Linked DNA regions of Homo sapiens. The protein of the gene in region 1 interacts with the protein of each later gene in a pairwise test. Each region holds a gene or a part of one and is shown in the gene's direction. Other genes may lie near its edges.

What was found.
Region 2: the proteins of SEPTIN2 (region 1) and CRAMP1 interact in a two-hybrid assay, tested with the Homo sapiens proteins (one large-scale study listed by IntAct).

Annotation. Positions count from the first base shown.
Region 1 is NC_000002.12:241,350,312-241,354,130, forward strand, and holds the end of SEPTIN2 (septin-2), read left to right. Parts: intron 1-1,631; exon of another isoform or gene 1,632-1,655; 3' UTR 1,656-3,716; downstream 3,717-3,819.
Region 2 is NC_000016.10:1,615,350-1,619,168, forward strand, and holds part of CRAMP1 (protein cramped-like), read left to right. Parts: intron 1-3,819.

The DNA of each region.
Region 1 (3,819 bases):
TAACTCCATCACTAATCTTAAACAAGGAGAGATTGCTCCTGAAAAACAGAAGCCACTACTTTGCCACCTACTTTCTAGTAAAGATTTTTCATATTTTTGTCTCTTCTTTTTTTTTTAAATAATTTCAACTTTTATTTTATTGGGGTACATTTGCAGGTTATTTTCTAAGCTTGCAAATACCAACATTAGAAGGAAATTATGTATTAAAGCACTTTTATTAGTTGTATTATTGGAAATTTGTTAATTGTTAAAACATCTCTTTAAAGGGAATAAAAACGTGTTATTAAAACAGCTTGTACAGATTAAAAGTAGAGATGGCACAAGGAAGAAGAATTATGTGAGGTAGATAAGGGTTCCCTGGATGGTGACTGCTGACCTCCTGTTCCTCAGATAGCTTTGTCCCGACTGATGGTCATTAGTGAATAGATCTGTCTGGCATGGTGTATGCTGGTCTGCCTGCTTGAAAAGAATCTGCAGACTCCAGAGACTCAGGACCAGGAAAAGGCAGATGCCCACTCCCCTGTATCTTATGTATCTTATGGACAGGCAGGCTCTCTGAACTGTCCAGGTGGCCACTCCCATCACTTGCCAGAGGAAAAGCATGAAAGGTAAAGTTAAGTAATGACCTAAGAGTCCAAAGAAGAGGGTAGGTCACATGGAGCTGGGGTAAAGGCAAACAAACCTCATACAAGAGATCTGATTAGAGCTTGAAAGAGAGTTTGAGTTGGCCAAGATCTGAGGATGAAACGCTGGGAATTTGGTAGAAGGTCTCTACTACAATTCAGGGACCTCATTCTGGAAGCATGAGTGTGTTCATGAAAACAGGGAGGGGACTTGAGCCTTCAACGACATACGGCAGGGTGGGTTAGGCAGAAGGCAGGGAGTCTTGAGGCCTCCACAGCATGTGGACAGGTGGCTGAGGAAGGACCCAGAGTGACTTGCTGGAGCCTTAGTCACCAAACGCTCTTGCAGCTTAGTGGGAAAGGTGTTCATTGTAAAATACGGTATTTACACAAAATGCACAAAAATACGTATGTACAGTTTAATAAGTTACTGTAAGGAAAACATCCATGTCACCCCCAACTGAGTCCAAGTTGGTTGCTTTAGTTTCATCATCACAGTGACACCTTAGAATAGTCCTGAGGGTATGTGCTTAGTTCACACTTTACTGATGAGGAAATTGTTGCCGCTCCGAGAGTTTAAAAGTATTTGCTGATGGTGCCATGACTTTTAAACGATGGCCTGCTGACTCTAGAGGCTGGTCCTGCATAACCAGTTAATGGCATGTGACTGGGGAAGTGAGGGTACAGTGGAAAGAGACAAGGATGCCTCAGCGATGCAGCTCATTTGAAGCAGGAAGCAGTGACAGGTGTTTGCTTATTTTCTCTGAGCTTCATTTTCAACCTTTATGGAATGAAAATTTTACTTTTAGATCGATAAAATTTTATTTCTGTATACTTTCTAGTTTTGCAGCATTTCCAGTTTCCAGGAGCCTCATGAATGGCTTTTTGGTTTAGTTAACTTTGTGGTCATGTAAGCCCTGCCTTTTGCTCAGTTTATGACCTTTGTTAAGGAGAAAAGTAGAACTGTTAATAATTAACGCAGCAGACATTGCCTCACTCCCACTTAAGTGTGTTTTGTTTTCTTTTTTCTAGAAAACACTTTCCTGGATAAAAAAGAAAACATTCCAGATGCATGATCCAGCTGTGTGTTTTCAATCCTTGGGAGGGTGCCATCCACATTTTAACAGTACCTGTGCCTGAGAATTTAATTTTTAAAAGACTTTGATGTGTTTTTGTATGAAGTACTTTTAACGTATGTATTTCATTGCTGTGTCACACTCTGTGTTTTGTGAGGTGAATGTCTTCCTTTTCTTTCTCCCTAACCACTAATGTTAGAATTGATTTCCAAGAATCGGCATGTATACTTAATACTGAATTTCTTTGATTTAACTGACTTAACAACTGACTAACCATTGATGAGCACTCCTGATTTTTATCTAGAACATTCAGATTTACCATAATGTTCCTTAGTGGTAGAGGTGTGTGCCTAGTGATGTAGAAAGATACACTGACTTGGTGCAAGGCCATCTGCTTACCACATCACACCACTTGGAGATCTTTGCTTCCTTGCTTTTATGTTTGTACACAACACCTAAAACCAGTTTTGCTGCTATAATTCTATACTGTTGATTCGTCTGCGATTTTATCTGTTAACCAAATAAAACATAATAGAATTTCCTAATGAGATATATCTTTATACTTAAACAGCTTTTTTAGAGGTGAGTTTTAAAGAAGTCTCTTAATTCTGATGCTAGGTTGTTTTTAAAACCACTATGCAAAGAACTCACCACAAGCCACCTTTTGTAGTGTTCTCCACTAATACTGGTTATCCTGTGCTACAGAGAAAATCAAAGCAGTCATAAGCTCCAGTTTTCGTATTGCAAATAAGACTCTTACCTACAAAATGAGATTCAGTGAACTAATTTGGTTTTTACTCAACCAAATTAAAAATTTTTTTAAGGAAAATTAGCAGTTGGTCTATTCAGAATCAAACCTTTTTATATTTTATACTGCACTTTAGTGTATTTTCTGTCACTGTAGGTATAGAAGATCTGCCTCCCCTGTGGAAATTGGGGTCTGTTGGTGGGCGTGCCCCTGAAGCCTGGCTTGGGTTGAAAAGTGTTCCCGCCCTAAGGCCTTGGTGCCCTGAACCTCTGATGCCTACCGGGTTCTCCTGATTTGAGTTTCCTTTAAATACTCCCTTTTTGAGTAATTTTCTGATGGGAGGAAAGTAGCAGTCATCATCTTTTTGTGTGCAGGCTGTCTCATTTATTTTTAGCCATTGTCGTTTCATTCATTTTGTGTAATATAAACCGTGTGTCATGTCAAAGTGAAAGACATTTCAAATCTGTAGCATAGGCTAGTGGGCAGGTCCGCACAGTCGAAGCCACACCTGGTCTGTTTTCTGTGCACTGTAGCCTTAGTGTCACCTTTCTTCTTGTGTCTCCTTATGGTACACTCCAGCGGTTGCCTTTTTTATCATTTCTACTGAAGTTGGGAAATTCAACCCCAGAAATTGACAGATGAAAGGAGACAATGGTTGTGTAGGGAGATGGAGAAAATGCTTAATCTGAGGATGAGACAGGGTTTTTTCATTTTTGTGGGGGCTAGAAAAAACATAAAATGAGGCAGTTAAATAATAATAGTTAATGAAGGTGTGCTACAGAAAATAATCTGGTGTTCTTGCTAACTTTGCCCTTCACTGTTGCTTAATTGTGAACAGCCAAAAGCTATATGTTATGGCTTATTGTGTGAAGGTAACTAAGAAGTGGTGTTCCATGACTTCAGAGTACATCCATGCGGAGTCCATTATTTGAGTTTGACATTTAATAACTTTGCTGGAAAATCTGTAAAAAAGAAAAACAAGTTTGCTAGTGACTAAGCCCCGCATATGTGAGTGAAAGTACTTCAGGCACGCTGCCTCCTGGTAACAGCTATGCAGGGAGGGAGGACCCACACTGCTACACTTCTGATCCCCTTTGGTTTTACTACCCAAATCTAAATAGATACTTTTGATAATAGATAACTGCTCTTTTACTAAGACATAGTCTCTACCTATAGAAATGTATTTTGAAAACACTTATTTTACACAGCAATTTTGTATCCATTTAAACTAACCTTTTATCAATAAAGCACTATTGTTTAGATATTAAATGAGTATTTCTCTTGGTTATTTGCAAGGGAAAGTTGTGAGGTTTTCTGGGAAAATTCAAAGTCTTGACAACATCTTTGTATAAAATCAAGAAAAATTACTTGA
Region 2 (3,819 bases), on another chromosome or scaffold:
TCCCAGACATCAGGCGGTGGAAATGCACCAAGGGAGCAGGCTTTTGAAACTCATTGGGGGGAAGATGGGTAAGAAGCGGAGAAAGGATCCTTGGGGTCTGACTTGGACCCATTGTCCTCTCCTTCAAGTGCTCCTGGGTTGAGAGTAGGAAGGGCATAGAGATGGGGCCCTTTGAGTTGCAACTGGGGTTTACTTCTGTGCCAAAGAAAGGAAAGAGTGGTGAAAACGATTGACATGAACAAGCAGCAGCTTGTAGTGTTCGCCCTTGTATTCTGAGGTGATGGAGAATGTTGCTACTTAGCTGGGGTCTCTTACCAAGATAGTAAGAAAACGGCATGTTAGTTTCGTTCTCCATGTGCCAGTGCTTCATTGTTGTCTGCTCTTATTTCTATTTCAGTCTTGTGCTTTTCCTTACGCAGGTGAATGACTCTGATTCTTTTTGTTTCCGACCATGTTCGCAGCACTTTGTATAAATAGCAAATATAACATCAGCTTCCAGTGAGTTTCACGTGAAAAAAAAATCTTTCACTTCCTTCCTTGGGAAATGCTCGTTTACATTTAGTGAATGGTCCTGGTAGTTTTGACAAGGAAATATATTACGAACTAATGGAGAACCTGCTTTGGAGATCTGTGCCACATGTGTTCCATTAAGCCCACTTCTCCTGCCGCATTCTCAACCGAAGAAGGCTGGCCTCCGGAATCATGGCCTTACTCATTGGTAAAGAATTCTGATATAAGTATACTTATTTAAAGATGTAAATAGAAGGTAACTTAGCATGTTTCAGAATTTAAAACTTGCCTCATATGAATTTATTTTGATGTGAAAGTTGCTGATCAATTTGGAAAACATGAGTGGCTTTGCTTGTTACTAGTTTTTTATTGCTAGTTACAGGTATGTCTAAGCTCATATAAGCTCCATGGTTCCTTCAAAGGTTTGTTGTTCATGGTTCAGAAGCCCTGGACCTTGAATCCAGCCGGCATTCGTCCCCCATGTCCCTGGCCTCCAACCTTGCTCTGCCCCTTCACCCTCTTGGAGATGCTTTTCTGTCGGGTGTCCTCACCTGTGAGGCAAGGAATGAGAGCAGCTACTTCACCCCGTTGAAGTGCGGCTGCTAAAATGAAATAGTGCATTGGTGTGAAAGCACTCTCAGACGTGTACGTGGCTACTTGTATGTATAAGTGAAGTGCTGCTGAGACGTTAGTGATCAGGTCAATTTTTGGCAGTTGGGACGAGGGGAGGCTTGCTTTTGTTTGTATAGTTGAGAGTGGCTTGCTAAGGTGCAGAAGGTTTCCTGAGCTTGGCTCACACTTAGGTTGCTGGCACTTCTTTCTTTGCTTCTTGTCCCATTGTGTGGCTTGGAGAAGCGTGGGACTTTTCATTAAGTTTTAATATTAATAAAATGCAAATTTATTAGAATTTGTGCTCCTCGTGACATATCCATTATCCCACTTTAGCAAGCAAATATATCTTTTTTTTTTTTTTGAGACTGAGTCTCACTCTGTCACCCAGGCTGGAGTGCAGTGGTGCGATCTCAGCTCATTGCAAGCTCTGCCTCCCAGGTTCACACCATTCTCTTGCCTCAGCCTCCCAGGTGGCTGGGACTACAGGCGCCTGCCACCACACCCAGCTAATTTTTTTTTTTTTTTGGTATTTTTAGTTGAGACGGGGTTTCACCGTGTTAGCCAGGATGGTCTCGATCTCCTGACCTTGTGATCCTCCCGCCTCAGCCCCCCAAAGTGCTGGGATTACAGGCATGAGCCACCGCTCCTGGCCACAAGCAAATATATCTTTAAGCAAATAATAAGCTAAGCTGTGATGGTGGCTTTTAGGAGAGGAGTAGGAAGTGGGTCTCCTTTGCATCACAGAACTTCTCGGCCACTGTCTGCCTTGGAGCTTCCCGGGAAGGAAGGCTGCCTGTCCGCTGCTCTCTGCTTTCAGGTTCCTCAGTGCTTTGGGAGGCACTTCACTGTGCCCAGGACATCCTCTGACACCAGTCTTTGGAGAGACCTCTGCTCAGTCGTTGCTTCCATTACCCGTCAGAAAAGAAGGCCAGGTGGTGGCAGTTGCCCCGCAACAGTCTTTAGCTCACCTTCCAGAAAGATGCTCAGAGGAGAATCCTCTTACATTCTGGAGAAATCTGCATCTGGAGTGGTGAGCATCTGTCAGGGAGGAAACGATCAATACTTCATGTTTCAATTTTTCACTTGGAAATGATGTAACTTCTATTATGCCTAAGGAATACTTAGCTCAATCACTGGCAGTTCCTTTGGTTGATTACTTACTGCCCTGGCCAGTTTCAATCTCAGTGGGCCTGAGACTCTTACAGTGAATTTGGAAGAAAGGACTTGTGGAGAAAAGGAAAGTCTGCTTGTTTGGCTTTTCTGCATGCAAGTGTGTTTTCTTTCTCTGAAGAAGACACTCTTATTGACTTCAATGAAAAATGCTTTTTTTTCTAGTTCAGTTTCAAATTTAAATCTTCTTGCATTGATAAAGCGATGGTAGCTGGGATTTAGTGCCTGTTTGCCAGGCATCTTGCATGTCTGTAATTTTGCTTTTAAATGAGTGCAGAACCTGAAGTAGATTGTTTAAGTCACATGCTCAACCTAAACTCAAGGTAAGCTGCAGACCAGAAATCCCAAAACAGACATTCCTGCAGCTCTAATACACCACCCACGTGACCCTGGGACGCACTGGAGATTTCGGCTTAGAGCCGCAGAAACCATCTGAAAGACATAAGTCAGGAGACAGAGTCCTGATACCTTTCCCTATTTGGCCAGTTCATGATCCAGCTAGCCCTGGGCAAACTAGTCCATCTTTTGGATAAAATAAACACCTGCCTCAGAATCGCTTGAACCCGGGAGGCGGAGGTTGCAGTGAGCCAAGATTGCGCCATTGCACTCCAGCCTGGGCAACAAGGGTGAGACTTAGTCTCTAAATAAATAAATAAATATAAAAATAAACACCTGCCTTAAGTCACAAGGTGTTTTACAGGCACCTGGTGTTTCTGCCATGAAAAATGCATGCAGCTTCAAGATTACAGGACTGCAGGAGGAGGCTGCACAGGCTGGCGGGGTGGGGAGCCTACCTGTGGGGTGAGTAGAAGTCCGGGAATGCTGGTGCTCTGCTGGGGCAGATGGGATGAGAGAACACTGGGGGTGGGGACAGAGAGCCTCTGCTTATTTTGGTCCCCCTCTCACCCCGAAGAACTTCAGTTCCATCAAGGATGGGGAAATGCACCATCTCCAGAATAGGGTAATGTAGTCTGAAGTGACAGTCGTTTGTGTGTAGGAATCGGTAAACGACTGTGCACAATTTACTCTTTATATTTTGTATAATCTGTGGACTGTTTGTAGTTTCTAGATGTTTCAAAAAGATGTCTCATAAGAGATTGTACCTGTAGTCCTAGCTACTCAGGAGGCTGAGGTGGGAGGATCACCTGAGGCTGCTGGTTGGAGGCTGCAGTGAGCTGTGGACATTGCACTCCAGCCTGGGTGACACAACAAGACCCTGTTTCAAAAACAAAACAAAACCAAAAAAGATAAAGTAGGTAAGGCAAAATTTGAACATTGGTTTGAAGGCTGAGCTGCTTTTCAAATACCTGTATACTTTTGGTATTAAAACTAGTTTCTGTGGTGTCTGTTGTTGTGAAGTTGTCTAATGAGGTAGACTTTTCGATTTTCATTTTTGTATCTTATTGTGGCTTATGTAAGGATATAACAGGGAGATGATTCATGATTGCAAAGTCAGAAATGTGAAAATTAACATCGTTGTATAAAGTGGTGTGTAGAAGCTCTTTGTCACATAAGTAACAACAGCGG